4 linked regions of the Homo sapiens genome follow. The protein of the gene in region 3 purifies or fractionates together with the protein of the main gene of each other region. This does not show direct contact. Each region holds a gene or a part of one and is shown on either strand. Other genes may lie near its edges.

Region 1 (7,399 bases), on a different chromosome or scaffold from region 3:
ACCTCTCATGGTACAGTTTGGGGAATGGTACCATTGATCAGGCAATGATTGCCAAATGCCCAAAGTTGGCATTCAGGCTAGTGATAGCTCCAGGTCTCCTGGTGTCCAAATGTTCCTTCTCTGCTCTCAGGGCCTTAGTTTTGTCATCTGTTAAGTGGATTGTTACGATGACAAGCAAGATGAGACATGGAGAATTCCAAATTCTGAATACAGAAGCAGGTCTGCAGGCTGATTAGTATAGTTATGTTTTGTCTGGCCCTAATCTCAGGAGTGGGGTCTACCATGTTTACATGTTTACCCTTGTTTCCAGGTGACTTCCAGGACCTCATCCTGAATGTAGTTGGGATGAGAAGATGATGTGACCTCCTGGTCTCCAGGCATCCATGACCTAACAGACTGCACTGTGTCAGGATTCAGCTATGCCTGGTGCAGCTGGACTAGGTCCCACTCTGGGTCTTATAAGGAAGGATCGACTTGTGTGTGGCCTCCAATGCAGTTTCACTTGTCTTCAAAGCCCTCCGCAGAATGTAAGTAAAAATCTGATCCTGGAATTGCCCTTGGCGAGGTGAGCAGCCAGGGGCCACACACAGAAAACAGTCTGTTCCTGGTGGCGTTCGGAAAGGCCAGTCACACTTGCCACCCCCGTTGTCATCGTCCCTAGCTTCAGAAAGCACTGGAGCCAGGTTGACATGCGGCCGATGAGTCTTTGTTCAACTTGAGCTCAGATGGACACAGAAACATGAGAGGAGCCAAGTCCTATGTTTAAACAGTTAAGAGGAAGCCAGGCTCAGTAAGGAACTACAACCCGGGATTTAGCCTGGTCCAATTTTCCTTCTCTGGGATTTCCTGTCCTTTTTTGTAGATGTTTCTATCTATCGAATGTTCCCTGGTCATTGGTTGAAGGCCATCAAGTCGGCGGTGAAAGTCTTACCCAGTACTTACACAGTACTTCAGCTTAGCTGCGAAAATATCAATGAGCTGCCGAACTGTGTGGACCCCAAGCCAGGCTGATGGGACACACGTGCCAGGCCTCTGTCCATCTGCCCTTCACGGTGGAAAAAGAGCCCAAACTTTAAGACTGGGCTTAAACAAAGCATCCACACAAAGAAGTCCAGCCTGCTACCCCAACAACTGCCAGGGGGGCAGGCCACATTGGGGTTGGTGGGGGACAGAAAACCGGTGGGTCTTTAAGGAATGCAAAAGAAGGGAACCCCAAAGGCCCCCTGCAATGTCCTCAGACTGCAGTTAAAATTTAACAAATTTTTAATGTAAATCATCTGGCATACTCAATTGCATGGGGTACACGGGATGGGTGGGGGTGAGGGGTGGCAGCAGGGAGGGAACAATGGCTAGGATTAGATAATTTACTTAGTGCTAAAATTCCAGGAAGTTTGTGTTGATCTGGGCCTGGATCTTGTTACTTTTTAGCTCAAATCTAAATCTTTATCTTCCTCTAAGAGTTGAGAGGACATTTATTACGTCGTCATTTTTACAGTTGTAATTTTTACTCCCTTTCATCAAATAGAGCTGGTTAGATTAGCAGCTCTTAGCACTGAGATGAAAATATTGGTAGGGCCCAATGGGTCCTGTTTTGTTTATTCTAACAGAGCAGGCTTTGATCTAGACATATTTCCTGGGGTCTGGACGAGATGACCTAATTCCTGTCTTATCCGTCTCTACTTTTCTGTGAATCTCAGATTGCGCTTTACTGTGGAGCCCTTTGAAATTCACTTTATACTTTTTTCCACTTTGTTACCCACTCTGACATTTGTTTCATTTGGGATGGAGTGTGTAACTCCTAGCAAATAATCCATTGCTTTATTTTTCTAACAGGACTGCTAAGTTTTAACAGAGTAGGAGCTTTTTTTTTTTTTTTTGCTCTCTCATTCTTGACATTCACGACATGCCAAAAACAATAAGCAAATAATCTACTGCTAGAAATTTATGTCAACTGCAAATCATTAAGAATTTTCTGTTTGAAGACATTTTTTTCTTGTAATTAAAAAAAAAAAATGCCCTCCCTCCACTCCCTAAAAAGCCATTTGAATAGACCTGGCCTGTGAAGATTGGGATGTAAAAACTCAAAGCGCAAAGCCAGCTTCAGGTATCTCCAGCTGATCTGCAGGACCCCTCCCTTACGCTACCCACCCTTCCCCAACCCAGACCGGGGGTGGGGGTGGGGGGGGAGGGAGGGAGGGAGGGGTCATCTCGAGCAGCTTGGGTTTGTCATTGGTTCTCTCTCTCTTTTTTTCCCCTCCCCAGGTCCCTGTCAATCACCAAACTGCTCTTCCAAGTATATTTTCCAGGAAGAAGGAAGCCCGTGGCGGGGGGGTGGGTGGAAAAGGGAGGGTAGTGGAGATGACGGGAGAAGGAAGAAAGAAAAAGCACGACGGAATATAAGGAAGGAAAGATAGAGAGAATGAGAGAATGACAGCTACCCAGGCAGAGAGGAAGAACAGGAAACGCAGTTCCTGGGGAGGGGTGGGGGGAACAAAAACAACAAAAAACCTCGAATAAACTACAAATTCCTAACGTTTGTAAATTTTGAGTGATAGACACAAAGCGTTTCTTAAATTCTTCTCTGGGCTGTTCTGTATTTTTACAATTCCCCCCTTTTTAAAAAAAAAAGCTGGGGAAACTGTCACCAAAGTGAATATTTTTAGCTAAACAATTCTGTGAACTTAGTTGCAGCAACAATCCTTCCTTAATTCAGTGAATTCGGTTCTCGGTGATTTCAATACCACCACGAGGCACCTCTAGTGAGGCGTAGCGGGGCAAGGGTCGGGGAGTAGGTGAGGAGGGGGTGCGCGCCCGTCAGCTGCCTTCACCTCAACCCTGTTGCTTTGTAAATGTAAATCCAGTTCTGTTCTGCGGGCCGAGCCCAAAGGCTGAGTGTATTTTTCACACTGGGAGGAGAAGCAGGGCAGAGGGCGATTTCTTATTTTGGAAATGGATGGAAAGGGGAATGAATGGGCAGGTAATAATCAATAGATTAGAAAGATAGTCAATCAATAAATGGATAGGCAGGGACAAAAGGAGACACAGAGAGAGAAAAAGAGAGAGAGAGAGAGAGAGGAGGGGGTTGGAGAGAAAGAGACGGAGAGACAGAGAGACCCTCTGACCTTTTCCTAAACTCTTCTGATGGCTCCGGAAAGAGAAGTGACTTTTGCTCCCCTTAACTCACTTTCAGAAACCGCTGGAAGGTGGGAGGTTAGTGATGAGAGGGAAAGGGAACACAGCGCCCCCGCTCCCCTCTCCCCACTGCCTGCCTCTTGGAAATGGACGCGCAGCCCAAGGTGGTGCAGGGCGGTGACCTTCGCGCCCGGCCCGGAGTGCGGGAGCCCCGGGGACTTGGCGGCGGCGGCCATTGGAGAGCGGGGTCCAGCTGCTGGCAGACGCTCGGTGGAAAGTGTCGCGGCGCAGCCCCTGGACACCTTTGGAGAGGGCCGGCGAGGCGCCGGGCATGTGCGGCAGGGTGGCGCTGTCGAAGCCTGCCCCTCTCGGTGGGCGGCAGCCCCCCGGATCACTTCCCTCAGATGTCCCCAGGCCCTGTCCCTGGGCGTAAAGGGCGCGCAGCCCGGGGCAGCCCCTCCTCGCCACGCCCAGCGATGGGAAGTTGTGGACGTCGTCTGTGCAACGGAAACAGCTCCATCTGGCCCGCGCAGAACCAGAGTTCTGGCTGGAACTCCGGCCTTCAATCCGTGTCCCCACTCTTGGGGAAAAAATGTCACTCCTGGAGCGGAGGGGACGGGACAGGAGAGAGGAGAGCGAGAAATCTGTCCCTCTAAATGTTCGGGTGCCAAGCCTTCGGGGTGATTCTCAGCATCAATCACGACGTCGCGCAACCCTCTCCCCTGCCCCCCCCGCCGCCCTCTCTGGCTTTGGGGGCTCCCACCCCCTCCCCTGAACTCTCCCGGCCCAGGTCAGCGCCCACCTTCTGGAACGCCGGACCCGGACCCGGACCCGGACCCGGAGGCCGAGCAGGGGTTGAGGGCGCCCCCTCGGCACAGAGTCTAACGACAGGGTCGGGGGAGTGCGGACCCGAGTGGCCCGCGCCCTGGTGGAAACTTCTGCAGGAAGCGGCCCGACGCTTTCTACCTTACCTGGGCACAACCGCCGGATGCGCGGTTCACCAGCTCCCTGAAACATTAAAAAAAAAAAAAAAATCGGCGACCCCTCTGGACACAGCTTCCCTTCAGTCCGTTTGCTCACCTCAAAACAGTGCTCAGGAGGAAGAAAGCCTGTTCCCCCCTCCGCCCCAGAACAACAGGGAGAGGGGAAGAATCCATTTGAATTTGCTTGATGAAATATTCAAGCTGACTCTACATAACCTTTCTAATAGACTTTTTCTTTCAAATATGCATGTGCGTTTAAATGCCTAAAAGACCAATTAAATAAAGAACATGTTGACCTCTCTGGGTTGAGGCCCAGTTTAAGTCAGATTATATAACCCCGCAGCATCAGGAACTCCCCAGCAATGTGGCTCTCAGCTGCCTGAAAAAACGTGACTGCATTAAGTGAAATAAAACCAGAATAGTAAAAGTGAAATCTAAATCGGCATAAATATCTTGCTTAAAAGAAACTTACCTGTTGGGTTAAAACCTCCAACAACATCTTTTTATGTCATTTCGTTGTTTTGCTTTTCTTGGGGGTGGGGTGGGTAGCGAGTGGAGTCTATAAAATCCATTCCTAAATAAATCATAGATACTGGGAAAATATCTAGGGCCTCCAAATTTCAAAATAAAAGAAAACGCAGGCCCATGCAAAGCCGTTTGTTATGCCTTTTACAATTCCTCATTTAAAGAGGGATACACACTCACATACACAATTGACTGCTGCCTGGGGAAATGTTAAAACGCATTTGGGGCCTGGCTAAATGGAAATGCACTCTAAAAACACAGACACAGTATTTTGTTTTATCTGTTGCAAAAAAAATGTATTTGATTACTTGAGTAAAATTACAGTATCTCTGTTGTTAGTAAGTATTAAATGTTAAAGAAATTGGACCCCCCCTTTCCTTTCAACTTTCCAAGAAAGTGCATGTAACAGTCCAATTTTTTTCTTCCATACCTAAGACAAAATAAACAAACACTATACCTGCTCTCTTGATCAAGAAGAAGCATTTGCTCTTGTAAGGAACATATGTACATTTGAATGAAAGTGATATTTCTTATTGTATATACAAGAGCATCTACATTTTCTCCACTGAAGGTTGTTCAAGATGCTATACTTAGCAGCATTGTGAAATTCCAGCACACATTTTCTATCGTGAATATACCTACAAGGCAAAATGTTACGTCTCAGTTTCAACTACCAAAACAACGCTTGTTTTCTTTTTCTCTAAAGAATTCTGCGTGCTTATTACTGTACAGAAACTTATTAACATTGAAGACGACTCAAGTAAAAAGCACAATACAAATAGCAGTTCAAAATGGAAATGGTTAAATCGACAAAAAAAAAGGTTGAATTTTAGAATAAAAATTAAAAAACCAAACCTTTCAAAGAACCACACTGTTCAGTCTGTACTTTCAGTCCTTTCCTTAAATCTGTTTTGAAAGATTAGACAATGTGTTTGCTGATAAAATTTTCCAGCAGGATCAAAGTGTACATGTATATACAGACTTTATTAGAGATCTAATGCATCACTGAGGCATTGCATCAACACCAGATTCATATTAAACTGGATATAGAAAATAAGTTAATGCCAGATTACAACTGCCTAGCAGGGCAACTTGCAATTGCCATAAATGTTACAGCAAGTTTACAGCACTCTAGTCAATTAGTATTTAGTCCAAAATACAGAAGACCAAAGTTAACGCTTGCATTCTGTTTGCAAAGCAAGGTTATATCGCTAATAAATAAGCTTTCTTAGAACTCTAAAGTTGAACAAGGTACAAAAGAATGTCTTCATAATGTTGTAGTTCATAGATCTGGGGAACAGAAGGAAGGGGCGGGGCGGGGTGGGGGGCAAGGAGTAGGAGGCCACCATAGGTCGCATTCTGAACAGGAATGAATGCTATGTCTCCAGCCCGAGCTGCTTTAACTCGTGACGATCTCCTTGCTGTCCTCCACGAAGCGGGTGAAGCGGAAGTTGGTTCCGTTCTCACTGCTTGCCATTTTCTCCAGGCCGGCCAGGGGAGCATTGGGCTCTGAGTTCTGGAGCCTCTCCAGGTTTCCCGTCAGCCCACTAACAGGTGAGCTGTTCCCACTGCCGAGGCTTCCAGGAATTGGAGGGATGCCACCGTTCTGAATGACGGAGATCTCGTTGGCCTTCATCGCCAGCCCGTTGGAGAGCGCTGCTGCATACTGATTCCAGAAGCTGGAAGGATCCCCACTTCCTGATCTTGCCGCCAAATCCTTCTGGAACATTTCTGGGAACTTGACGGGATTGCCTCCTAGAAATGTCATGGGGCCATCCACAGAGAGCCGCCGACCCCGTCGTGCAGGGGTGCTATTCCACATGTGAGTGCCCATGTGTACCTGAGATATGGGGAGGGCAGGCAGAGAGACAGAGAGAGAGAGAGAAAAAAAAGAGGAGGGGGAGAGAAGCTTAATAGCTGAATCTGTCTCAACTCATATCCCAAATGTCCACAAAGCAAGTGGCCTAAATGTCTATTCTCATCATGTGACAGACAGTGAAGGCAACAGGAACCATCCATTCCTCCTGTCTAGTAATAACGTGTTCACTCTCTGCAGCCCTGGGCTGTCTCCCCTCTTCCAAGGCAAGGATGCCTTACTTACTCTTTTTTTATTAACCATATTTAGCTTATAATGGCCTCAAGCAAGCCAGGCAGTGGCGGATAGCTCCTTTCAGGGTTAGAATTGTTAGGTCCACTCTCATTGCAATGGTAAGTATTGTATCTGACACCCTTTACCCTATAAATGTCCTTTTCAGATGGGGAGAAGGTATCCCTCCCTGATTGCCCATTGGAGGGCCTGCGTATGGAGAGAAAAGCCAGAAAGTAATTATTCATCTCACATTACTGGGAGCAATCTCCAGAGAAATACTCTGTCAACAGAAAAATGTACACACTAAGAGCACTCAACTGTTGCTCTAGAACTTAAGCATATTTGCTTTATTTCCAACACATATCAGTAGGAAATGCTGTATAATCAATTATCATAATACCCATTAGCAGAGCAGTGACGTTATTGTTTTTAGACAAACAAACCATGCTGGACTGCATAGTTATGAAAAATAGATACATACGCCGAGAACCCTAATTATTAAGTGATACGGGCAGCACACAGGCCACGTGGAGGTCTTTAATCAATACCCCATGGCAACGCTAGGCTTTCTTGGTAGGTAAAGCAATTCATTTGGTGCACTTAGCGAGACAACAGAGAGAGGCCGCTGCTTCGCTTAGGTACCAAATTATTCAATGTGCACTGACATTCA
Region 2 (8,004 bases), on a different chromosome or scaffold from region 3:
TCGTATGCAAATACGCATGCTGACGTTACAGATCATGTGGGTTTTGGCGTAGATTCCCCACTGATCGAGGCATTTTTTTTCCCTTTTTTTTTCCTTTTTTTTTTTCTTTTAAAAATTTTGGCCATCGTTCTCCGTACGGGGGCTTTTTCTGTCTGTCTGTCTGGCTGGCAGGCTGGCTTTCCCCCTCTTTCCCACGGAGCCCGAGCCGGGCGCCCGGTGGGGAGTGGGGAGTGGGTGGGGGGAGCCAGCAGAGTTCCATTTTGGAACGCCCGTGCCGCGTCTCCGCGTTCCCAGCCCGGGTCCCCGCGTTCACAGCCCCAGCGCAGGTAAGAAACTTCGCCTCGGCGCGGAGCCCCCCAGCCGGCGCCGCCGGCCCCAAACCCCGCACGCCGGGCGCCGGCCACTCCAGCCCAACTTTCCCACCGCCGCCGTCGCCGCCGCGGCTCCCGAAAATGTGTTGTTAATGGGACTTGGCCGGGTTTGTGATTGGAAGGGGGGTACGGAAGGGGGGGGGTGTGCAGGCTCTTTTTGCGGGTGGGAGGAAATGAGCGGATACAGAGAGGGAAGAAGATTTTTTTTTTAAGAGTTTTGATTACAAGTTTGGATAAATGGGAGCCAGAGCGAGGAGGAGGAGGAGGAGGAGGAAAAACATGTCTACGTTTCCCTATGTCGACATAAGCCACAAAAAAATATGGCGTCCGCTTTCGACAGGGCGTTACGTAGACCCGACTGTTTTTATTTATTTATTTCGTGGCCGTCTCCCTCCCTTCTTGGCCAAACTGCGGCGCTTTGTGCAAACGGGGCAGGTCCCGCGGGGACTCCACCGGGACGTGGCCCCGTCTCCGCGCGTTTTGGCAGGCGGGGGGCTGCGTGTGTCTGCTCCCCTCCCTCCCCCTCTCCCCTCGCTCCCCTCTCCCGGTGACGATTCGCCGTAATGTGGTGGCAGGAAGCATGACGCCGTGGGCCGAGGCTGCCTCTGCTCTCGTCGCTCCCGGCGGCTGCAGGCAGCGGGCGCGCAGCGCGGGCGGCAGCCGAGCTACCTGGCGGGGGCAGGGCCGGAGCGCGGCGCTGTCCTCACCCCCGCTCAGGTGCAGGGGGAGTCCGCGCGGGGCGGGGGGCCGAGGGCGGCCGCGGGACCCCCGGCCCTGCTGTCCGCTGCCAGCTGGCCGGAGCCTCTGCCAGCCCGAGCCCACGTTCGCCCCCCTGAACGGCAGCTGGCGCTTTTCGTCTGCCCCACAAGAGGTTAATCTTTGTTGGTGTTGCAGCTTCTTTGTGGCTTCCCCAGGACTTGTATCCTCGGCTTTGCAAACTTGCCCTTTTCCCAGCCGCTTTGCAGGAGGCTGCGGAGACGAAGATGAGCGGAAAGTTGGAAACCAGCAGGCATCACAGGACGGTCCCTTTGGCCTCGTAGCTGTGCTGAGCCTGGGAGGCGGAGGAGGAGGTGGAGGCGGCGGCGGAGGAGGGTTTGTCAGGCTGGGGAGAAAACTTGATGAGGAAGCCAAATTGTGATTTGTTCAGGTTTCCACCTGATTGATAGTCTTCAAAGCCAGTAGGTCTCTACCTTCAACTGTTTCGCGGTGGCCTTTTGTTTGTCTGGGGCGTGGAGAAGGAGAGAAGTCGATGAATAAGGACTTTCCCTCGACCCCTCCCCTTTTAAAGAGTGGTTGCTCAGCTTGGCCCCCTGGGACACTGCCTTTTAGGCCCTGGAGTTCTTCCCCAACCTGCTCTCTGATCACTTTCTCTCTGTTAAGTTACCAGATCTCCAGGTCTCAGGCAGGCCCCGATGAGCAGAATGGAGTTAGAGGAGAGGATTCCTTCCCCCAGCACTTCTTGAATTGCCCAGACCTCCCACAATTACCCTCTTAAAACCACACACACACACACTTACTCACTCTCTCCTTTATATATGGCAGAAATTAATGCCTGTAGAAGTGAAGGGGGTGAGGTTCTGAGAGCTCTTCAAGATTTGAGTCAAAAGGTGATTTTCTGTTTATGAGGGCAGCGAGTTTAAGCAGTTCACTCCCAGGGCAGTAATGTCAAAAAGCGTTTGGATGACGACCAAGTGGAATAAATATCTTGTAAAATGGCATGTTTAATAGTAAAAATAGATTAATGGAGCTGTCAAGTGGTTGAATGGGACTACCATAAAGGTTTAAGTTTAAAGGGAAAGTTATGTAAAGCTGTATACACAGCTTCTTTTAAGGCCAGAAGGGAAAAAATCTACAAGTAAGGCTGAAATGTGTCACTGACAATAATTGGACTGGTGATGTGTGGAAATATCATCGCTGTTTAAATGCTCTGCTCCGCGATTGTTCTCTTGCGCACTTGTACCTTTCCTTCTAGCCAGGTTTGCTGTCAGCTAAAGGATGCACCTGAAGATTGTGCTTCAGGGGAAAATGCAAGAAACCAAGATTCTGGGGCACATCAGCTATCTCAACTAATGTCCATTTGAAGGGGGAAAACACCACTGTTTGTTGGCACTGAAGAAAGGGTATTCCTGTGATGTAAGTGCAGTGTATCTTGACATGCTGAAAGGTGGCCCCACCCGGCGTTTCTCATCCACATCAGGACCATGTGATTTGGTGGGATGCTGTACACTTATCAAAAATAATCATGGCAATGTTTGATAACAGTTTCTAACACTGTTATGGTGTGTGAGGCACAATGCTGTATATTTTACGTGCTTTATCATTTAATTCTCACCACAATCCTGTGAGCTAAGTACTACTATTATCCTCCGTTTATGGTTGAGGAAACAGAGGCTCCAAGAGGTGAAGAAACTTGCCTGAGCGACACAGCAAAAAGCAAATCCAGGCCTAACTTCATAGCCTTAACCAGTCCATTGTAGCAGCATTCAGATACACGACGTCACAGTTAGAATAAAAAAGTAAAGGGTCAGGTCCAGCAGAAAAGAGGGAACAGTAGCCACTGTCCTGAGGTCCGAACTTCAGAATTTACCTGGATTTTATTCCTTTATTCATTTATTTAGCAACTGTGTGTTGATTTATTTATTCATTCAGCAACTATAATGTTCATTATACTAATAAGAACCCATAGCCATTAAGCATTTTTGTATGCCAGGCACTATCCCAAGTGCTTATGACTAGACTATTTTGTCTTCATGACAACTCTGATGTAAGTACTCTCATTCTCTCCTTTTTCTAGATGAGGAGGCACAAGCCCAGGTAAGTTAGCTAACTTGCCCAAGTCCAAACAGCTAGTAAGCGGAGTGGCAGCCCCCAGAACACACACACTCTGCTGTTGCAATGCAGAGCGCATAACCAGATGTATGGAAATGCTGGGGAGACAGAGCCCCCCTGGCAGAAACGCAAAGCACTGCATGCTCCAGACATTATGGAGATGCTGGTGGGATACACACCCCCTGCCCTCTAGGAGTTTGAGCCGACTGCGGGGAAGCACTCATTAAACCAAATCAAGCAGGCTTAGATAAGTGCTATGATTGAGAAAACTAACCACTGTGGAAGCACAAGGAAAGGCATGATTCTTCTGCTCTGAGGGGATCACAGAGGATCTCCTAGAGGTGGGAGCAGCTGAACTGCCCCATGAATGAAGAGGAACAATGTCCAGAGGTGTAGCCAATATCACTGCATTCGGCTGCTAGCAGCAGACTCTTGACTACCAGTGACTTAACCAGATAGGGACTTTTTTGTGTCAGACAACAACGGGGTGAGGGGTAAAGGGAGATGATGCCTCAGCTGTACCATTGGGAACCCAGACTACTTCTTTCTACACTGCCATGCTTAGAGTGGAGGCCTTTGGCCTTAGGTTTATCATCTCATGGTAGGAAAGTGGCTGCTACGTCTCTAGGCCTCAGGTTTGCATTCCAAGAAAGAGAAAAAAGGATGAATGAGTCTCAAAGAGCTTTTACCCAGTACAGCTTCACTGCTATATCTGGGAAGGGGCACCCCTCTCAGGGACTTCTGTCTTTAGCTCATTGACCAGAGCTGTGCCACATGGTGACTACTGCCAGGGAAGAGCAGTCAAGTATTTTTAGTTGGACCCATTGCTGTCATGAGCAAATTGGGGTTCAACTTGTAAGGCAGACGGGGTGAAAGGAGGAATGGTTGTTGAGTTGGCAGGGAGGGCATGTGCCGCCTGAGAAAGAAGGGCCCTGGGAGCAGTGGACAGGTACCCTGGGGAGGTGGAGAGGGGGATGCAGGGAAGGCTGTGCAAAGAGATGATGCCAGGCTTGGGGGTGCACATGGAGGAGGCTGGCTTTTAATCTCTAGGTACTAGGGAGCTATGGCAGGTTTCTGAAGGTCACGTGTTTGGGGAAGGGAAGACTAAGACTGACAGCAGAGTACCTTGTGCAGACAAACGAGCTTAGTTCTTATTTGCAATAAAACGAGTTCTGCAAAGTTTCAGGCCAGGGAACAGTTTTGCCTCAGGGCAAAGAGAAGACCATGTACAATAAAGAAGTGAGGGATGATTTGCTTTTAGGTCCTGTCAATAAGAATCCAAACTTAACCTGATGTGAGTCAGCTGTTACAGGGAGGCAATCAGCTCTCCTTTCTGGATAATTCAGTTAGTGGGACTGGAAAAGCTGGAAGGGGGTGCCATTTACTCTCCAAACACTACACTTGCCTTTTTCCTGACCTTTGGGTCTCCTGGGCCCTAGCTGCAGCTCCACCACTCATCAGCAGGATACCTTTGGCCATGACCTTCACCATTGCTTTAAATCAAGGAGATGATATCAGAGCATGTCAGAGGCCTTCCCAGCACCAGATTCCCCAGGCTAGATTCCTCCAGCAAGGGCCAGCCTCTCTGATTCTCTTTGCTCAGGGTATTACCTTTATGACTTTGAGCTGTTACTTACCTCAATTTTCTTATCTCTGAAATGGAGATCACTTTAGTAGCTGCTGTATGAGTTGTTAGGAAACTTAAGAAAGTTGTAAAAAGGCTTAGCACACACCTCACATGTGAACTGTGCTCAACAAATCACCGTCATCACTGCAACCACCTCAAGAAAGTGACTTTATTGTAAATTTGAGGTGCCAAGTAATTAGCATGTGTGGATTTCATCATCAATCCCAGGACCCTGACTGTCCCATCTCATTGCCATTCCCCTTCTGCCTCCCCCCACCCCCAGTACACACATGCACTCATTTTGTGGCAAGTCCGTACCACACATCAGGTACCACACGTACGGTACCAGCACATGAGGTACCGTAATGTGCTGTGTCATAGCCACATCCAGACAGCACATCTCAGGAAGGATGCTTGGCTGTGCACATGCCCCTTTGGTAGACAATAAGGTAGACATTATTTTCTGTATTGACAAGATTATTTCATTTTGAACTGAAAAAACTCGTGATTCCCCTCCCCCACCCTTCTCTAATGCCCCCACCCTACATTGAGCAGGTTGTGATTTTAAGAACATCCACCCACAGTCTGCTTCCTGTTCTTACACTTGTAATCATGCAGTTAAGAGGGGTTGATTGGCAGTGGTGTGTGTGTGTGTGTGTGTGTGTGTAAAACAGACCCCATGCAGAAAAACAGTCCTGACAACAGTATATCAATTTCCACCCAAACTTTAAAATGGAATAGAGACACCAGGGCCAGAACCTGTCTTCTTGCTGATACCTCTCTTTCCCCCCTGGTAGACAATATTTACCTGTTAAAAGTCACAGTTCACACCCTTTCTTCCTCTTTCTCTCCCCCTTACTCCCTAACATTAGAAACACTTAGTGGAGATTAATCTTGTTACACATTGTTTCACTGCAATGGTATTTAACACATAACAGAATCTGCAGTGAATGAAATTCTTGTGCTATTGATCCATGAGGGGTCAATATGAAGGAATGTGAGCCAGGCATTCACTGTGGTGTAAGAGATTTGTGATATATTTTAGGGGTGCACATGTCTAGTTTGGGATGGAATAGCGGGAAGCCCACGCTGAGTTTATCTTTCAGAGAGAAATCAGCAAAATCCTGGGGACCATTTCCTGTCAAGTTCAGGGTCAGGGAATAGATTCATGGATCTCTGGGGCTTCGGGGAGTAGCCAAATTGAGTTAGCTCTTTCTTTGGGAGGAAATCTTCCCTGTTGGGGGCCCAGGGGCCACTTGTGAGAGACAGAGAAGGAGCCTGCTATTGAGGCAGAGAGGAAGAGGGTTATGAATGAGAGTTCCTGGGCTACAGCCCCTCCTTGTCCTGGTTGGATGCCTGCAACTGCAGCTGCTGGGCTCAAAAACATCTGCAGAAAACTGAGGAAGGACCACAAGTCTAAGTTAAGGAGGAAGTGGCAGGCACTCATGCATGCCTGCATATGCTGTGCAGAGGTGACCGTTTAAACCAGTGTTGCAGAAACACTCAAGAAAAACACTCCTCAGCAGGCCTGACATTTATGCCCCCACAGCCATCTCATCCCCCACAGCCTGGTTCACTCTGGCTGGTGAAACTGAGCAAATACAAAGCTCCCTACACAACCAGATGCACAAAGCTCCCCACATACCCAGACACAGCACAAGCACATGGTGTTCACCATGTTAAGAACAGCAATAGCCACAGAAAAAGTAAGCACCTACTATGTGCTAGGCACTCTGCTAAACACTTTCCCTTCACAATGTCATTTAATCTGACCCTGAGGAGTAAATTGAGAGTGGCAGTGTAATTCCACTTAAAAGGTAGGAAAAATGGGCTAGCTTGATGGCTCACGCCTGTAATCCCAGCACTTTGGGAGGCCGAGGCAGGTGGATCGCTTGAGCTCAGGAATTCAAGGCCAGCCTGGACAACATGGTGAAACCCCATCTCTACAAAAAATTTAAAAAACTAAAAAATGAACTGGGCGTGGTGACACACACCTGTAGTCCCAGCTACTTGGGAGGCTAAGGCAGGAGGATCGCTTGAGCCCGGGAGGTCAAGGCTGCAGTAAGCCATGATCACGTCACTGCACTCCAGCCTGAGTGAGAGAGCAAGACTCTGTCTCAAAATAATAAAAAATAAAAAAAGATAGGAAACGAAAGCTCAGAGGGGTTAAGTACTTATTCAAGGTCACAGAAAGAAGGTAGCAAAGACAGAATTCAAACTCAGCTCAGTCTGATTCCAGAGCTTTCTGTTATTGTACGTAAGTCTTCTGGAAGCCTGGCCCACATCAGCCTGGAAGAGGTGTGAGGAGAAGGGACGGTTTTAGATCGTGCTTTGGGATAGTCTGATTGCTTTTCTGATAAGGGGCATAGGGGTGCATGCCTTCCTGCATGAGTGTGTGTGCACGTGTGCGTATGAGAGTTTAGTCAAAACAGGAGAGAATTACAAATCCGCCTCTGTTATCTACAGCTCCCCCAAACCACCCCTCCTCAAAAAGAGGCCATTGTAAAGCCTCTATCAGTGTCTCCAAGAGAACATTCTCCAGGGGCATTGCGCCCTCCGCCCTCTCCTCCTCGGATCTGGAGAGAAGGAATCCCCGTGGGCTGAAAGCTGCAAAGTTGGAGCCGGAGGAGAATCTGGGTGCTCCTTTCAGGATGCAGAGTGGCCTCGCCAGCCAATGGGGGAAGGGGGTGGAGGAAGCAGGCGGAGGGAGGGTGGAGAATGGCTGTGTTGCTGTTTTTATACAATAAAAGAGGATCATTGTAATTGGGAGCCTTTGAATCATAACACGTCTGCCTATGGCTCTCCCCAGCTGCAGAGCCATTTAGTTAAATAGCACACAGAAAACTCCTTTCAGCTGATATTACGTTCCCGCTGTTCTTAAAATATGAGACTGGGCTGAATTGCTCTAAGGACAAAGCCATCTCAGGCGCCACCCCACCAGCCCCTGGGTGTACCCAGAACCCCCCAGGGATCTCCATAGCCTGTGGAGGAGGAAGTTTAGAACTTATTTTCATTTGCATGGCACCCTGTCTTTTTGAAGATAGATTAAGATATTTGCACACAGCCTGGTCAGAGCTGGATGTCATGGTGAAGTTTTTTGTGGCAGTGGTGGTCCGGAGGGAGTAGGGAGAGGCCAGGAGGCCAGGAGGCCAGCACTGGCGGTGATGGGGTGTGCCT
Region 3 (8,004 bases):
GTTTCAACTAACTTGTATTGTGACCTTGGGCAAATTAGGTTAACTTCAGTTGCCTCAGTTTCCTCACCTGTAAATTGGGGATAATGGTAGTACTTAAAGTATTAGTGTCAGGATTAGGACAGTGCATGGCAAATAGTAAATGCTCAGTAAATCATAGTTATTAGATCTTTGTGCAGTGAATAGATTGTTGCTACCCCTTTGAAAGGCTGTTTCTGGGGCAGCACTTCTCAAACTTTTTGGTTTCAGGACTCCTGTACGGTCTGCAGACCCTGAAAACCTTTTGTTTATATAGGTTATATCTACCAGTGTATATTGTACACAAAATTAAAAATAAGAAATAAATTTTAAAAAGCCTGTTATACAGTAACAAATAATCATTTTTATGAGAAGTGACATTTCCAGAGCAAAAAAACTACTTTTTTTTTTTTGAGATGGAGTCTCACTCTGTCGTCCAGGCTGGACTGCAGTGGCGTGATCTTGGCTCACTGTAAGCTCCGCCTCCCGGGTTCACGCCATTCTCCTGCCTCAGCCTCCCGAGTAGCTGGGACTAGAGGCGCCCGCCAGCGTGCCCGGCTAATTTTTTGTATTTTTAGTGGAGACGGGCTTTCACCATGCTAGCCAGGATGGATTTTTGTATTTTTAGTAGAGACAGAGTTTCACCATGTTAGCCAGGCTGGTCTTGAACTCCCGACCTCAAGTGATCTGCCTGCCTCGGCCTATCTTCTTTTAAACCAGATACTATGGAGACTTGGAAAAATGTTAAATAATGTCCGAGAGCACATTATTCTACATTTTTACATTTTACATTTTTCTGTATCTCCATAGTATTTGGTTTAAAAGAAGATGAGTACTTTCTCATATCTTTCTATATTCAATCTGTTTTGATATATTGTTTTGGTGGAAGCATCTGAAGAAAATCTAACTTCATCAGATATATAGATGGAAAAAGGAGGAGTATTTTGATCACTTTTTCAGTGGATTTTTTTGATATTATACCAAAACTTTACAAGTAGTAGCTTCTCAAAGCTTAGTTATAATGTGGAATTTGAAACCATATCCATGAACTTTTTGTACCCTGTTATATTAAAATCCATGGGTCTTTTTTTTTTTTGAGATGGAGTCTCGCTCTGTCCCCAGGGTGGAGTGCAGTGATGCAATCTTGGCTCACTGCAGCCTCTGCCTCCCGGGTTCAAGCAATTCTCCTGCCTCAGCCTCCTGAGTAGCTGGGACCACAGGCATGTGCTGCCACTCCTGGCTAATTTTTGTATTTTTAGTAGAGACGGGGTTTCACCACATTGGCCAGGATGGTCTCGATCTCCTGAGCTCGTGGTCCGCCCGTGTCGGCCTCCCAAAGTGCTGGGATTACAGGTGTGAGCCACCACACCCAGCCCCATGGGTTTCTTTTATACTTTGAATGATTCTTCTACAAGTGCATGACTTTGTAACAGCACCCATTGGCTATTTGGAAAATGTTCACTGAGTGATGTAGATCTTTAGTGGAAACAATTGACAATTCATTATACAGCATAAAAAATTATATTTGTTAGGGCTGGGCGTGACGGCTCACACCTGTAATCCCAGCACTTTGGGAACCTGAGGCGGGCAGATCATTTGAGGTCAGGAGTTTGAGACCAGCCTGGCCAACATGGTGAAACCCCGTCTCTACTAAAATTACAAAAATTAGCTGGGCATGGTGGCATGCGCCTGTAATCCCAGCTACTCGGGTGGCTGAGGCAGGCAAATCTCTTGAACCCGGGAGGTAGAGGTTGCAGCCAGTTGAGATTGCGCCCCTGCACTCCAGCCTGGGTGACAGAACGAGACTCAGTCTCAAAAAAAAAAAAAAAAAAAATTGTCACCACTGATCTCATCAGAAAAATTGAGATTTTCAGATGGAAGCTGATAAGTTTTTATGGGCAGCAAATAGTTGTTTCCCTTGAAATTACAGTCTCACTTCATTCATTTTTGAGAAAATATCTGCCAAATATATCCAAATCTGAATGACCAGTGTCTATTAGACTTTCTTTCAAGTAAAAATTGTATATCATGCTAAAGGGAGCTAATTTATCAGAAAAGCAGAACAATCATCCAATGGAGACATTCATCATACCTCGGGTTGCAGCAAGCGTGTTATAAGTATGCCCCATTTGATTACACCCAGTATTGAAAACGACATGTACTTAAGGATAACGGTTTTCTTTCTTTTCTTTAAAAAAAAAATAGCATCATTTATTTATTTATTTGAGACAGAGTCTCGGTCTGTCACCCATGCTTGAGCACAGTGGCATGATCTCTACTCAGTGCGGCCTCCACCTCCCAAGTTCAAGTGATTCTCGTGCCTCAGCCTCCTGAGTAGCTGAGATTACAGGTGCATTCCACCATGCCTGGCTAACTTTTTTTTTTGTATTTTTAGTAGCAATGGGGTTTCACTATGTTGGCCAGGCTGGCCTCAAACTCCTGACCTTAAGTGATCTGCCTGCCTCAGCCTCCCAAAGTGCATGAGCCACTGCACCTGGCCTCTCTCTTTTTTTTTTTTTCTGAGACAGAGTCTCATTCCTGTCACCCTGGCTGGAGTGCAGTGGTGCGAGCATTGCTCACTGCAGCCTCGGATTCCCAGGCTCAGATGATCCTCCTGCCTCAGCCTCCCAAGTAGCCGGGACTATAGGCACATGCCACTGTGCCCAGCTAATTTTTGTATTTTTTGTAGAGATGGGGTTTTGCCATGTTGCTCAGGCTGGTCTTGAACTCCTGGACTCAAGCAGTCCACCCACCTCAGCCTCCCAAAGTGCTAAGATTACAGGCATGAGCCACCACGCCCAGCCAACATCTCTTTATTGTCTCATTTATGCCCAGAACAACTCAAGCATATTTTATTAATTTTTTTTTCCCTTTTGGAGACAGTCTCACTTTGTTGCCCAGGCTGGAGTGCAGTGGCTCTAACTCAGCTCACTGCAACCTCTGCCTCCTGGGTTTAAGTGATTCTTCTGCCCTAGCCTCCAGAGTAGCTGGGATTACAGGCTCTTGCCACTATGCCTGGCAAATTTTTGTATTTTTAGTAGAGATGGGGTTTCACCATGTTGGCCAGGCTGGTCTCGAACTCCTGCCCTCAAGTGATTCATCTGCCTTGGCCTCCCAAAGTGCTAGGATTACAGGTGTAAGCCACCGTGCCTGGCCTATAAAGCAGATTTTAACACACCATTCCCATTTTATAGAAAATGAACAGAAGCATAGAGAGGTTAAGTGATCCAAGGTGACCAAGCTTATGTCAGAGCCAGGATTCAAAGCCAGGTTCTAGAGACCACACTTTTCCTCAGTACCATTCAGTGATGAACCAATCCCGTCTGTTGTGGGAGGACGGGAGCAGATAGACATTACCTTTTGGGAGAAAGTGCAGGAGTGGACAGGGCACCTTTGCTAGTCATCATCTGGGCACTTCGACCTGACTACTGCCCCTTTATCTTTTGCCCTGGCAGGATGACTTCTCGGAACCAGCTGGTGCAGAAGGTGCTGCAGGAGCTGCAGGAAGCAGTGGAGTGCGAAGGCCTGGAGGGTCTCATAGGTGCTTCCTTGGAGGCCAAGCAGGTCCTGTCTTCCTTCACTCTCCCCACCTGCCGGGAGGGAGGCCCTGGCCTCCAGGTGCTGGAAGTGGACTCGGTGGCCCTGAGCCTGTATCCAGAAGATGCTCCACGGAACATGCTGCCGCTGGTGTGCAAGGGGGAGGGCAGCCTGCTGTTCGAGGCGGCCAGCATGCTGCTGTGGGGTGACGCAGGCCTCAGCCTGGAGCTGCGGGCCCGCACCGTGGTAGAGATGCTGCTGCACAGACACTACTACCTCCAGGGCATGATCGACTCCAAAGTGATGCTGCAGGCCGTGCGCTACTCCCTATGCTCTGAGGAGTCCCCTGAGATGACCAGCTTGCCCCCCGCCACGCTGGAGGCCATCTTCGATGCCGACGTCAAGGCCTCCTGTTTCCCCAGCAGCTTCTCCAACGTGTGGCACTTGTATGCTCTCGCCTCTGTCCTCCAGCGGAACATCTACTCCATCTACCCCATGCGCAACCTCAAGATCCGGCCCTACTTCAACCGTGTCATCCGGCCCCGCCGCTGCGACCACGTGCCCTCCACGCTGCACATCATGTGGGCTGGCCAGCCCCTCACCAGCCACTTCTTCCGCCACCAGTACTTTGCCCCTGTGGTGGGGCTGGAAGAGGTGGAGGCTGAAGGTGCCCCTGGCGTGGCCCCAGCTCTTCCAGCCCTGGCCCCACTCTCATCGCCGGCCAAGACCCTGGAGCTGCTCAACCGTGAACCTGGCCTCAGCTACTCTCACCTCTGTGAGCGCTACAGCGTCACCAAAAGCACCTTCTACCGCTGGCGGCGGCAGTCCCAGGAGCACCGGCAGAAGGTTGCTGCCCGCTTCTCCGCCAAGCACTTCCTGCAGGACAGCTTCCACCGGGGGGGCGTCGTGCCACTTCAGCAGTTCCTCCAGCGGTTCCCGGAGATCTCCCGCTCAACCTACTATGCCTGGAAGCATGAGCTGCTGGGCTCTGGCACCTGCCCGGCCTTGCCCCCCAGGGAGGTGCTGGGCATGGAGGAGCTAGAGAAGCTGCCGGAGGAGCAGGTGGCTGAGGAGGAGCTGGAGTGCTCCGCACTGGCGGTGTCAAGCCCTGGAATGGTCTTAATGCAGCGGGCCAAGTTGTACCTGGAGCATTGCATCTCCCTGAACACACTGGTACCCTATCGCTGCTTCAAACGCAGGTTCCCTGGCATCTCACGGTCCACTTATTATAATTGGCGGCGAAAGGCCCTCCGGAGGAACCCCAGCTTCAAGCCGGCACCAGCCCTCTCTGCTGCTGGGACTCCCCAGCTAGCATCTGTTGGGGAAGGGGCTGTAATTCCTTGGAAGAGTGAGGCGGAAGAGGGGGCAGGGAATGCCACAGGTGAGGACCCTCCCGCCCCCGGGGAGCTCCTGCCACTAAGGATGCCCCTGTCCCGTTGGCAGAGGCGTCTGCGCAGGGCTGCCCGCAGGCAGGTGCTGAGTGGGCATCTCCCTTTCTGCCGCTTCCGCCTCCGCTACCCCAGCCTGTCACCTTCTGCCTTTTGGGTCTGGAAGAGTCTTGCTCGGGGTTGGCCCAGAGGCCTGTCCAAACTTCAGGTGCCGGTCCCCACCTTGGGCAAAGGGGGGCAGGAGGCTGAGGAGAAGCAGGAGAAGGAGGCTGGCAGGGATGTGACAGCTGTGATGGCCCCACCTGTGGGGGCTTCTTCAGAAGATGTAGAGGGAGGGCCTTCCAGAGAGGGGGCCCTGCAGGAGGGGGCCACAGCCCAGGGCCAGCCCCACAGTGGGCCCTTGCTGAGCCAACCTGTGGTGGCAGCAGCGGGTGGCAGGGATGGCCGGATGCTGGTGATGGACATGATCGCTACCACGAAGTTCAAGGCCCAGGCCAAGCTGTTCTTGCAGAAGCGCTTCCAGTCCAAGAGCTTTCCCTCCTACAAGGAGTTCAGTGCCCTCTTTCCCCTCACTGCCCGCTCCACATACTACATGTGGAAGCGAGCCCTCTATGACGGCCTGACCCTGGTAGATGGCTGACAGGGAGGTACAAAAGGGGCTGGGAAGAAGGGGGACCAGTTTGGAGAGGGTCAGGGACCTGAGCTGACCCCAGGCTTGGCCAGGATGTCCTTTGCTCTGGGTCCCACAGTGTCTACCCTAAGTCCAAGGGTATATTTGTGTTATTTTCTGGCTCCAGGACAGAGAATGCCAGAAATCAGCCATCTGGTCTCCCGTAGGAAACTGTGGGACCAGAGATATCCTCTTTCGTTGTTTGCTGGTCATATTTTTACTGTTATGATTTAGTTTTTGGTTTTGATTTGAGTGGGTTGGTTGGCCCCCTTGCTGGAGTTGGAAGCCGTATGTATGTCAGGGGGTTTAGAGGGGGGTTGGTTAGCTAGAGCTGCTTTCAGCTTTTCCTGGAGACAAAAGGAGTGTTATAGCATGATCATCGGTCCCACTGGGCAGAACGTTATCTTCAGTTTCTTTTGGGGGTTGGCATCCTCTTTACTCAGTTGTTTCCCAAAGGAACATTAGGCTCGAATATGGGGGCCAGGTGTGGTGGCTTATGCCTGTAATCCTAGCGCTTTGGGAGGCCAAGGCAGGAGGATCACTTGAGGCTAGGAGTTAGAGACCACCCTGGGCAATGTAGTGAGACCTCATCTCTTAGAAAAAAAAAAAGAAAGAAAATCAAATGTAGAGCTGATCAGCAGCTTGTGCCTGGCATCCCCAAGGGAGAAGGTGCCAGGTCAGCAGGAGCAGCAGCAGGGATGTATAGAAAGAACCACAGCTGGCCTCTAAAGGATGGCACTGAGGCACCGGAGATCTTGAGGCACTGGAGATCACTGAGGGGCTGGCCTGTCCCCTGCAAGGAGTGTGGGACCAGGTGGGGCAAGGCTGGGAGATGCAGGCTCTGTTTGCAGATTATGGCCCAGAGTCTCTGCTTGTGGGTGCTTGATCCACCTGCTGGGACCCTGCAGTCCTCGGCCAGCCTGGCTGTCAGTTGGGGATTCCACCTTTCTGCTGAGCGTCTTCTCGGAGCTGGAGGCCCATCTTCAGTGAGAGATCACAAAGCGGCCAGGCAGGTGGGAGACTGAATTTGCCTTGTTCGAGAGTAACGTTTGAAAACCAAAGAAATAAAGTGATGCAGTGCCCACAGTGCTTGGTCTCTGGTATTTGTTTTGCCAGGATGTGATTGCCCATTCCCATGCTCCCCTTTGGCTTAAGGGGACAAGAGTGACCTTCTCTTTCTCGATGGGATGCACTCAGGTCTAGAGCTTGGGGGATGAAAAGAGTTATTCTGGGGACTCTGAATTGGATCTAGAAGTGACCTTGGGTGCTTTTCCAGCTGAAGGGTGGGGCTCTGGCTACCTGGAAATGCCCTCCCTCCCATGGGAGAAACCTGGCGTTCCCAGGTGGGGAAGGGGTTGCTGCCACCACAGGTTGGCTCGACAGGGGCCCACTGTGAGGCTGGCCCTGGGCCATGGAGGCCAGGCCAGCACCTGGAGTCAAGTCTGTGCCAGACATTCTATTTAGTCCTTGCAATGTGCTCGGGCAGGTAGGCCCAGTCCTGTGACTGGGACACTCTAAGGACACAGCCTTAGAGTGGCTAATTTGCATGCTCCCTCTGTCTGGTGGGACAAGGGTGAGGGCAGCCTGCTGTAATGAGCAGCAGCAGGGATGTAATGGGAGCTTTAAGCCCAGGCCTTTGCCTGTTTGGTGAGGGAGGAATCATTAGGGAAGAAGTTCCCGTAGGCCCTTCTTCTGTCTGGGTTTCCTGCAGTGGCTGGCATCCTTGTGCTCCTGGGGAGTCATTCTTGCCTCTGCTTTTTATTCACCCCACATCCAATCCATCAGCAAGTCCTATTGACGCTGACTCCAAATGATACCCAGAACCCTCTCTCCACTCTACTGCCATTGTCTCTCCTGGCCCACATCACAGCTTCCTACCCCATCTCCCTGCTTCCCTGCTTCCACTCTTGCCCCTATACCCCTATACAACCCATTATTTTTATGATTTTTTGAGACAGAGTCTCGCTCTGTTGCCCAGGCTGGGGTGCAGTGATGTGATCTTGGCTCACTGCAACCTCCACCTCCCAGGTTCAAGCAATTCTTTGCCTCAGCCTCCCAAGTAGCTGGGATTACAGGCACCTGCCATGATGCCTGGCTAATTTTTGTATTTTTGGTAGAGATGGGGTTTCACCACCTTGGCCAGGCTGGTCTTGAACTCCTGATCTCGTGATTCACCCACCTCGGCGTCCCAAAGTGCTGCAACCCATTATTTTTATTTATTTATTTTTTGAGTCAGAGTCTCTCTCTCTCACCTAGGGTGGAATGCAGTGGCACAATCTCAGCTCACTGCATCCTCCACCTCCTGAGTTCAAGCAATTCTCATGCCTCAGCCACCCATGTAGGTGGTATTATAGGCACGTGCCACCATGCCTGGCTAACTTTAGCCTTTTTAGT
Region 4 (8,745 bases), on a different chromosome or scaffold from region 3:
TACTCCATACCTTTTTCTGGCTTTGAACAACAGATCTAAAAATATTGGATAATGCATATGCCATGGAAGTTGAAAACGTACTGCACATAAAATTCGAGAACTGTTACATAATCAGCTCTCTCTCTCTGCAAGCTGGGAATTAATTGGTATGCTTTTTTGTTGATCACAGAAACGTGCACTTTTAAATAGGTTAAGTTTTTTAATGTTGTTTTTAAAAGAAATGTTGGCAAAGTCTTCTTTTCCTCTCCCCTCACCCAACCCGGTTACTTACTTTTTACCTTTCATGTTTCAGAGAAAGCAATCTGCCTGTGAATGTTAGAAAGTAGCTCCTGCATTGTTCCTTTTGGTATGCTGAATTGTAAATGTGTGTAGTGTGCTGGGGGAGCACTGAGGGCAAACCATGCATATACAGATAAAAGAAAAAGATCCTGCGCCAAGCACTGGTGGCCGAGCTTCTTTCCCTTAATTCAAACACAGTCTGTGAAAACCACTGGTAAATTCTTAAATCACATGCTCAACACATTTAAAAGGATTTTTAAGACAGCCATATACTTCTAAGTTGGCAGAAAAAAAAACACACTTTGAAGCAATTAGTGCTAACAAACAAAATACAGGATGGTAAATGGTTTTAAATTATAATACCCTTTTGTTCCTTCTTAAATACATATTTTCTAACAACAACAAAATACATCTTTCTTAAATTATATTTTATACAATAAAGAATAGCAGTATTGTATCTTTTAAAGTTCTTAGTGGGCATATAACTGTCATTGGAAGTTTTAATTAATTTTTCTTAGAACAAAAATATTCAGCTGGCTCACAGGATTACTAGTGGCGCAAAGTTCACTGGATCCTAAAGCTGCAGCGCCTTTCTTCTAAAATAGGAATGAGATCATTTGCAAGTAAGTAATTTTAAAAAGCAATTTCTGTTAGGAATGTCTCAATGACTTAATTTTTTTTTTTAACAAAAGCATGACTTTAGAACTTTACATAAATTATCCTTACTTTTTCTCATTCTAGACACGTCATGTTTCATTCCTGTAGTGGTAAGGTTTGGGTAGCACCAGTTATTTTTGTATAGAATCTTTTCATTGCTTCAAAAATAAATCATAATTCTTTTTTAAGAGATACAGGCTTTGTGCTGTAAATTAATGTGAGTGCATCTCTGTCCCCCATTATACTAAACATTTTTGCATAGAATATTTGTTCTGCAGGACATTATCAGTAGCTTTCCATTTTACTGCATGTAGATGGACCTGCTGCTTTAATTAATATGTCACTCCCCGAGTGATACAAAGGAATTATTTACCTCGTTTCTAAAACACTAAACTAACTGAGCTCACTTGCAACTTCCGGCACGGTCTGTTTATTTCCATTGCATTTAACAAAATTAAAATTTTGAGGAGATCTGACTCAGGTTGGAGTAATTTGGTTTCCACACCCATTTACCTTTTTATAATTTTTACTTAGTTATCTTAGGAACGATGCTGAGTGCGACCGAGTAATACACAAATGGGGCATTCCTTGACTTAACACGGAACAGAGTGTCTGTTATGCTCCTTGAACAAGCTGCTTCGAATATAATTAAATGAGAAAGAACTTAAAAAAAATAGTTTGCCTAAACTCTCTCAAACAAGCATGTGAGCTGCTCGACCAAGACTCGGCCCCACACAGGGTATTTTGGGCCTCTTGCAAAACATGACCAGGAACTGTGGCAACGTCTGGATTACAATTCTGGATGCTGTGAAAAACACAGGCTTGACAAGAACTTCAATTCTACCACGGGTAAAAAACCTGAATATTTTGCATCTCTAAATAAATTCGAGCAGCAACAAGAGGGATTCAAAGTAGAACTTGTGAATAATTTATCCCATCTTAGGCTTTCAAATATAGGCGATATAGCCCTCCACACGTTTACACTATTAAGTTCAGCATGCTCACATTTCTGAAGTGAAATTAAAAATGAATAGCAGTGCCTCAGCTTGTTAATTGTTAAATACCAGGGGGTTTACTCTATTAATTAAAATATGCTTTAATAAAAGGAGACATCGCACATTTTGATACCGACCCTACAAAGCTGAGAAGTATTTACATTGTTGCATTTTGGGGCGGCTGTGAAAGCCGATTTTAAGCCATTCAGGAGCCACAATAATAAAGCTTTAAAATTCCTCACTGGGACGCAATGTAGTTCTTTTGAAGGAAAGACTGTCTTTCTCATTCGGCAGAAATAAATCCATTCATTTGATCATGTAGTCATTGAGGGCGATACAAAACAAACCAAGTGTGAGAAATTCTATGTGATGAAGTAAACAAAACAAAAAAAAATCCATTTCCATGACAAAAAGATTCTTTGTCCTTAATCTACCCACCATATGCAAGCGTTTCTTTTTAGCATATCGCCTGTTCTCATCTTGGCTGACTTGGCTACACAGATAAGACTCCCTTACCTCCACCGCAACAAAAAGACCCCAGCGAGCTCACTAATTTTATTTAATTCATTAATTCTCCAGCCGCGTCATAAGCATGCTCTCTCGTTCTCATCCGACATGGGTGTCTACCCGCTTTGTCAAACTTTACTCCACTGTGTGGGAAACTCTTCCGCCCCGTTTCCTTTTCGCAGACAGTCTCATTCTCAGAGTAAAAAGATCACCATCTGCCTCCAACAACTTATAACAGGTCAATCATAAAAGTTGGCCTGCCTGTTTTTTTAAGGAGCAAATTATTTTACTGCGAGCTGTGCTGCGGGCTCGGGGTCGTGGGGTCGCCCCTCCTCGGCCCTCTTTCCTGGCGCCCTGGGGGCCCCGCGGGGCGCGCCGAAGCCCGGGCGCCGCCGGCCGAGGTTTTGACTCGACGAAGGGGGTGGGGGCGCCCCAAACTTTGCGGGGCTAAGGCGCCACTCTGGGAAGTCCAGCCCTTTGCCAGTCTCTTAACTTTCGCGGCGCCTGCCCTTTGCTCTTGGATGTTTCGAAGAGGACGCTCCTACCAGCGAAATGACTGCAAAGCCGAGGTCTCCAGCGCCCGGCCTCGGCGGATCCAAAAAGACGGGAGAGAAAAGGCCCGCGCAGACGCTGCAACGAACGCCCCGGAAACACGCCGCGAGCAGGGGCCAGGCCCAGGCCGCCGCCGCTGCGCTCACCCCCAGCTTAATTCCCCGGGCGGCCATTAGGCAGAGCCAAGCCCCCGACCTTCTCCTCGCCTCGCGAGGGATCACAGGCTGCGTCAACGCGCTGGGACACCGCGGGTCACCCGAGGCGGTGCGGGGGCCCGGGAGGGGCCGCGGGCCCCCGAACAAAGCTGGCCGGGCGGCGGGGTCCCCAACCCGCGTCCAGCGGTAGGTGGGCTGCGGTCGCCTTCCCCGCCGCCGCCGGCCTCAGCGTCCTGGCGCAGAGACCCTGGGGGGCGGCGCGGCGGCGGAGGCACCGTGGACTCCCTCCCGCCCCGGCCTCCGAGCCGTCCTCGAGCCGGCCGCGGCCTCGGCGCCCTTCGCGGGCAGCTCCCCGACTCCGAGGAGAGGAGCCAAGTTTACTTCGCCCACAACTCTCTCGGCGGCCGCGCGCGCTCCGGCGAAGTACCCGGGGCCCCGCGGCCGGCCTGGCGCGGGGCGGACGCTTGCCCGCAGGAAGCAGGGAACTTTCTCCCGCTCCCGGACGCGCGCATCCGCTCCCGCCGCACGCGCTTCCCCAGCCCGGACGGGCAGCCCCAGACCCCCCGGCCACCCCGCAGCCCCGGCCCTCACCGTGCTCGGGAGCCCCGTCAGGCGGCAGCAGCTCCTCGTCCGACTTGAGGTGCTGGGGCTTGGCCTGCTTGCGCCGAGACATGCTGCTAGCGGCGCTCGGGCCCCGCGCGGGGCAGCGGCATCAGCGGGGCGGCCGGCGGGGACGGCGCGGGGCGGCCTGGCGGGCGCGCGGCGCGGGGCGCGGGGCGGCGGCGGCTGCGCGGGCCGCGCATGGGGCTGAGCAATTAGGCTGGTGAATAATGCATGGCCATTAGCGGAGGGCCGCGCCGATTGGCCGGGCTCCAGCGGACTCCGGCGGCCTATGCAAATGAGGCCGCGCTCGCAATTAGCGGCCGCGCCGACGAGGAGGGGGCCGCGGCGCCTCGGGACCGGGGCGCGCGCTGCCCGGCGCCGCCTCACATCGCGGGCTCCGGCGCCGCGCTCCTCGGCCGCCCCGGGTGCGGCTGTGGCGGGGCCCGGGTGCGGCGCGGGCCGCGGTGGCCGTCCCTCCGCAGGGCGCAGGCAGCAAACTTTGGCGGCGTCCGCGCGGCGCCGTCTCCGCCGGCGCGCCGGGCTCGCCCCTTTATAGAGTGTCTGCGCCGCCGCCCGCGCCCCCCCCGCCGCCGCCGCCGGGCGGCCCCTCCCGGAGCGAGCGGCCGCGGGCAGGGCTCCGACCCGGCGCCTTTGTCTCGCCCGGGCCGCTCGGGCGCCGCGCCTCCTGTTCCGGGCGCGCGGGGTCGGCCGGCCGCCTTCGCTGCTCCGCCGCGGCTCTCAGCGCCGCTCAGCGCGGCGGGCCCGCCCGGGCTCAGGTGCCCCCCGCTCTCCGGACCTTCTCGCCCGGCCCCGCGTCCCCTCCGCGGGCTTCCCCCGGCGGCCGGCCGGGCTCGGAGGCTCGCGGCCGGAGCGGAGCGGAGTGCGCACGCCGGGGTGGCAGGACTTCGGCAAGACCAACTTTCCGGTTCGGAAGCGGCGCGGGCCGCGCGGCTCCTCCCCTCCTCTCCCTCCCCTGCGTTCCCCCTCCCTTCCACTCCCCCCTCTCCCCGCCCCCCAACCCGCGGGCCCCACCGACTCCGGAGCGCCCGCCCCGCCCGCTGCTGCCACCGGGCCGCCTCGCCCCCGCGCCAGCCCGCCTGGGCCTCTGCGCCGCCGGCGGCTTCTTAAATACAGGAAAGGGAGGGGACCGCAGGGCCCCGGTGTTCCCCACCCTAGTCCCCCTTCACCACGGGCCACCGGGCGCCAGCGGAGTGGGCAGCGAGCGCGACCGAAAGTTCCAACTCCACCAAACTCCCGCGCGCGGCCCACCCTTTCCCGGGATTTCGGGGATGACACGGGGGCCAGGTGAGGGGGCTGCGCACTTCTGGATCGGCCCCACACACTCGGCCCCTGGCGCGGCGCGCTCCCCGCACACGCGCCCGCCCCCTCCCCGCGGTCACACGCACGCGCCCTCGCCCTCGCCCCGCGCGCACAGGCGCGTACTCCCACCCGCGGCCGTGCACCCGCCGCGCTCCTTCCCGCGCGTGTCCTCTCTCCCCGAGCGGCCGCCAGGATGTGCCCCCGGCCCCGTCGTCGCCGCGCCCGCGCCCCTCGCCCCAGTACGTCTTTTTTCGTTTCCTAAATTTCTTATTTTTGTCCTTGCAAGTGGTCCTGTCTGGTGTGAACCGTCAGCACAGATGGCCTCCTGGAGCTTCCCCGAGTCGTTCGCTGGGGGAAGCGGGCGGTGAGCGGCCAGCCCGGGCGCTCCGCAGGCCGCGAGCTCCCGGCAGGGCTGGTGGCGGGGGTCCGCCTGGGGGAGGAATCCCCGCCTGCTCCATCGGACCCGGCCTGGCGCGGCTCGCGGCGCTCGGCGGGCTCCCTTCCATTCTAGAATCTTCCCGCTTGCTTCCCAGCCCGCGTTCTTCCGCCTGCCTTTAATTGTGTAAGTTTGACGAAGTCAGAGCTTTGGGTTCCAGGAAAAGCGCAGGAGGGTCATAGAGGAAGGGAGGGCGCAGGTTGGAGTCAGGTCCAAACAGTCCCTATCGCCACTTTTGAAAAAAAAAAAAAACAACAAAAACCCTTAAGGTTGGTTTTATTTTGCCTTTTGGTAGCGGGCGTATTCATTTAGATTTTTTTTTCAAGACAGGCAAATAAAAGGTGTTTGAAATCTCTAGTTATCCCGTTTAACACACCCATCGATGGCGCTTTTCTAGTTAAGCTACGGGGGAAACGTCTTTATCCCGCAGTTAGGCTGCGAACTTGTGCAGATGCTCAGGCTTTGTGGAGACGCTCCGGCATCTGGCGCAGAGGCGCCCGGCGGGGAAAAGTTTGCAGCCCGGGCTTTGGGGCGCGCGGGGGGCAGGAATTTTTCTGAGAAGAGAGGGGCATAGAGAGGCGGCGCGGGTGGGGAGAGAAAAAAGGAACGCAGGGGGGAGGGGGAAAAGCAGCTTGCAGGATGGGAGTTTCTTGCAGAATTTACAGGATTAAGGAGTTTGGGGAAGTCGCAGAGCTGCAGCGGAAAGGCAGGGGTCTGAGACTACTTTTGAGAAGAGAAACAACGCAAAACGATCGCTGGAGGGCCAGAGCCCTGGTCGAAGGTGCCCTAGCTTTTATGACCTGGTTAATTGTGTCTCCTTTTTATTTTTATTTTTTTCCTTACCACTACTACTACTACTACTTTTATTTTTTTTTAACCGATACACTTTGGAGAGAAGAAGCAGACACAGGTTCCCACGGCGTCTGACGCCTGCGGAGCAAGTCCAGAGCCAGCTGGACTCGCAGCCTCTGGCCCGGCGGCACCAACTCCTCACTGGGTCATTTTGAGCGCGCTGTGCCCACCTTTTCTGTTGCGTAAGGCCCGCTCCCCCTGTCCCGCAACCCTCTCTCCAACAAACCGGCACGATGTCTTTAGGTCTTTCTGGGGCTTCCAAATGCAACTGTTTAATTTCATCGATCTGTTTTGCATTTCCTACAAGGTGTGGACGTGGGGAGGATCTTCTAAGTCCCTCCAACGAAGGCAAGTGTGAGACTCTGGCCCTTTATTTGTAAGAAGCAAGCCTTCAGATTGCAGAAGTGTCGCGCGGGTCGCCGTGCGTTGCGCGAGTGGGAAGATGGAGGAGGCCGGCACGCTGCTTTCGTGGACGCAAGTGAACCGGGCGTGAAGGCAGGGTGCGAGCTCTGCCCTTGGCCCAGCCCTGCGTGGGCGCCGTCCCAGATTCCGGGCGGTGCGGGGTGCAGAGATCTGGAGAGACTTGCGGGCTCCCCAGCGCAGGCTGCTCTGGGATTTCGTTGGAAGATCCGGCAGAGCCTTGGAGGAGAGGGCCCGGGAGGCTGTGTGTGCAGCGGAAACTTGTACGAATGCCCCCACAGCGGAAATGGTGCGCACGAGTAATTTCTGCGGTGCACCCTTTTAAAAATTGACAAGTGAACAAGATCAATTTTTTAAGAAAGCAAAGGTAGAAAACAAAAGGCGTGCGACTTCTTGACTGGCTTGTTCCCGCCTTTCTTCCTTCTCTATACTCAGATCAGAAACTTTTCTTTAATTGCTCTTATTCAGTGCGACAACTTTTAATAAAAGCATTTGCATTTTAAGCCTGAGTTGCAACCATAGATTTATTGCGAAGTGACAACGTGTCTATGGAATATTTTCGCAGATGAGACAGGACATGCGCTCTAGTCGTGCCCAGATTAAAGCGACGCTGGGCCATGTGCCTGTGTAGTGCAGACTCGGAGGGGCACACACATACTCGTCACCACATGACCACTGTCTATTAATATTGTCATACCTAAACACTCGCAAAAACAAAAGTTGCTTTTCTTCCCTGTAATTAAATCTAATTTGTTAATTGTCTTTCCTCTTGCAATGTTGTTTTCATCTTGAGGTGACACATTATTATTTTGTCTAATATTATTTACAAATTAATGCTGTATATTTTACATTAGTGAAACATATAATTAGGTGTTTGGTTCAATCGGTATCATTCAGATAAAACAAAGCCTATCTGCAAGATTGATTGGAAGTGGAGTAGTTGGTTCTAATTTACCATCACAGTCACAGTTTATTGAAGCTACCTGGCCCCAGATTCACAGAAGCTAGTTTTACCTAAGGTGCATTTGATGCTTTGTTTACAAGTGTTTATTTTCCCCAACCACTTAATGCAAAAAAAAAAAAACACCTTCAAATATTAGGGCTTTCATTTCATTTTCTGTCTTCTTTCATTCCTCCCCCCACCCAAAGTTCCTTTCTTCTATTCTCTGGCCACCTCTCTCCGTTTCCTCCCCTACCCCCAACTTTTGTTTTAGGTTCTTAGAGTTAAATTCAGCATGATTTGGTGCCTCTAATGCTGTGACAAGTGACTGCTAATTGGTTCTCACTTGAGCAAAGATATTACCATACTAATATTATTATTGGTAAGAAGAGGTAATTGATAACACCACCTGCCACTCTGGGGCAATCAGGATGATAAATGTTTCCATCAACAGGAAATCTGTGCTTGGTGTGCCACAGCCCAACGCAAACAGCATGTCAAGTGCCAATTATAAAGATGTTGCTTTTCTATTACATTGGGTGGGGGTGTAGGAAACATGTAGCCAAAAATTATATTTATGGTTTTTTGAAAACGCTTTTTCCAATCCTCTGTTTGCCTACTTGAAGATAACTTTCCCCGTAAAAATAAAATGCTCTAAGTAAATAAACCAGCACATAGCTAACTGCCCTGTCCACACTGGATACAACTGCTGTGACTTCCTTTGCTTTCAAAGCTATTGGAGATAAATATGCCTAAATATTTTTAACAGATGTGAGCCGGGTGTGGAGTGTATCAGTCCATTTTGGTTACGTGCTCCGCAGCCTTCCTGTGTGTTTATTCCAGGACGCTGTGTAGCTTCACCGTAGCCATCAGAGGCAAACATTCCGTGGCTTTTTATGGCATACACAGAAACATCAGCTCACAGTCGTCTTCGCACTGAGGGATGCAAACGATGGTGAAGTACTTCTCTCCTGATGGCTGAACTGTGGCTCGGGGCTGCATGTAGACCAGGAGGGACATTTCAGCATG

What was found.
Region 1: the proteins of VRTN (region 3) and SALL1 purify together in Homo sapiens (affinity purification with mass spectrometry; one large-scale study listed by BioGRID and IntAct). This does not show direct contact.
Region 2: the proteins of VRTN (region 3) and ZHX2 purify together in Homo sapiens (affinity purification with mass spectrometry; one large-scale study listed by BioGRID and IntAct). This does not show direct contact.
Region 4: the proteins of VRTN (region 3) and SALL3 purify together in Homo sapiens (affinity purification with mass spectrometry; one large-scale study listed by BioGRID and IntAct). This does not show direct contact.

Annotation. Positions count from the first base shown.
Region 1 is NC_000016.10:51,131,073-51,138,471, forward strand, and holds the end of SALL1 (sal-like protein 1), read right to left. Parts: intron 6,481-7,399; coding exon 6,040-6,480; 3' UTR 4,910-6,039; downstream 1-4,909. Other genes in the region: uncharacterized protein LOC105371253, read right to left, coding at 3,129-3,733, 4,104-4,149. UniProt on the Homo sapiens protein: Transcriptional repressor involved in organogenesis. Plays an essential role in ureteric bud invasion during kidney development.
Region 2 is NC_000008.11:122,781,621-122,789,624, forward strand, and holds the start of ZHX2 (zinc fingers and homeoboxes protein 2), read left to right. Parts: upstream 1-34; 5' UTR 35-326; intron 327-1,265; exon of another isoform or gene 1,266-1,549; intron 1,550-8,004. UniProt on the Homo sapiens protein: Acts as a transcriptional repressor. Represses the promoter activity of the CDC25C gene stimulated by NFYA.
Region 3 is NC_000014.9:74,353,313-74,361,316, forward strand, and holds the end of VRTN (vertnin), read left to right. Parts: intron 1-3,470; 5' UTR 3,471-3,471; coding exon 3,472-5,580; 3' UTR 5,581-6,696; downstream 6,697-8,004. UniProt on the Homo sapiens protein: Acts as a transcription factor that regulates development of thoracic vertebrae.
Region 4 is NC_000018.10:78,975,348-78,984,092, reverse strand, and holds the start of SALL3 (sal-like protein 3), read right to left. Parts: upstream 4,276-8,745; 5' UTR 3,819-4,275; coding exon 3,737-3,818; intron 1-3,736. UniProt on the Homo sapiens protein: Probable transcription factor.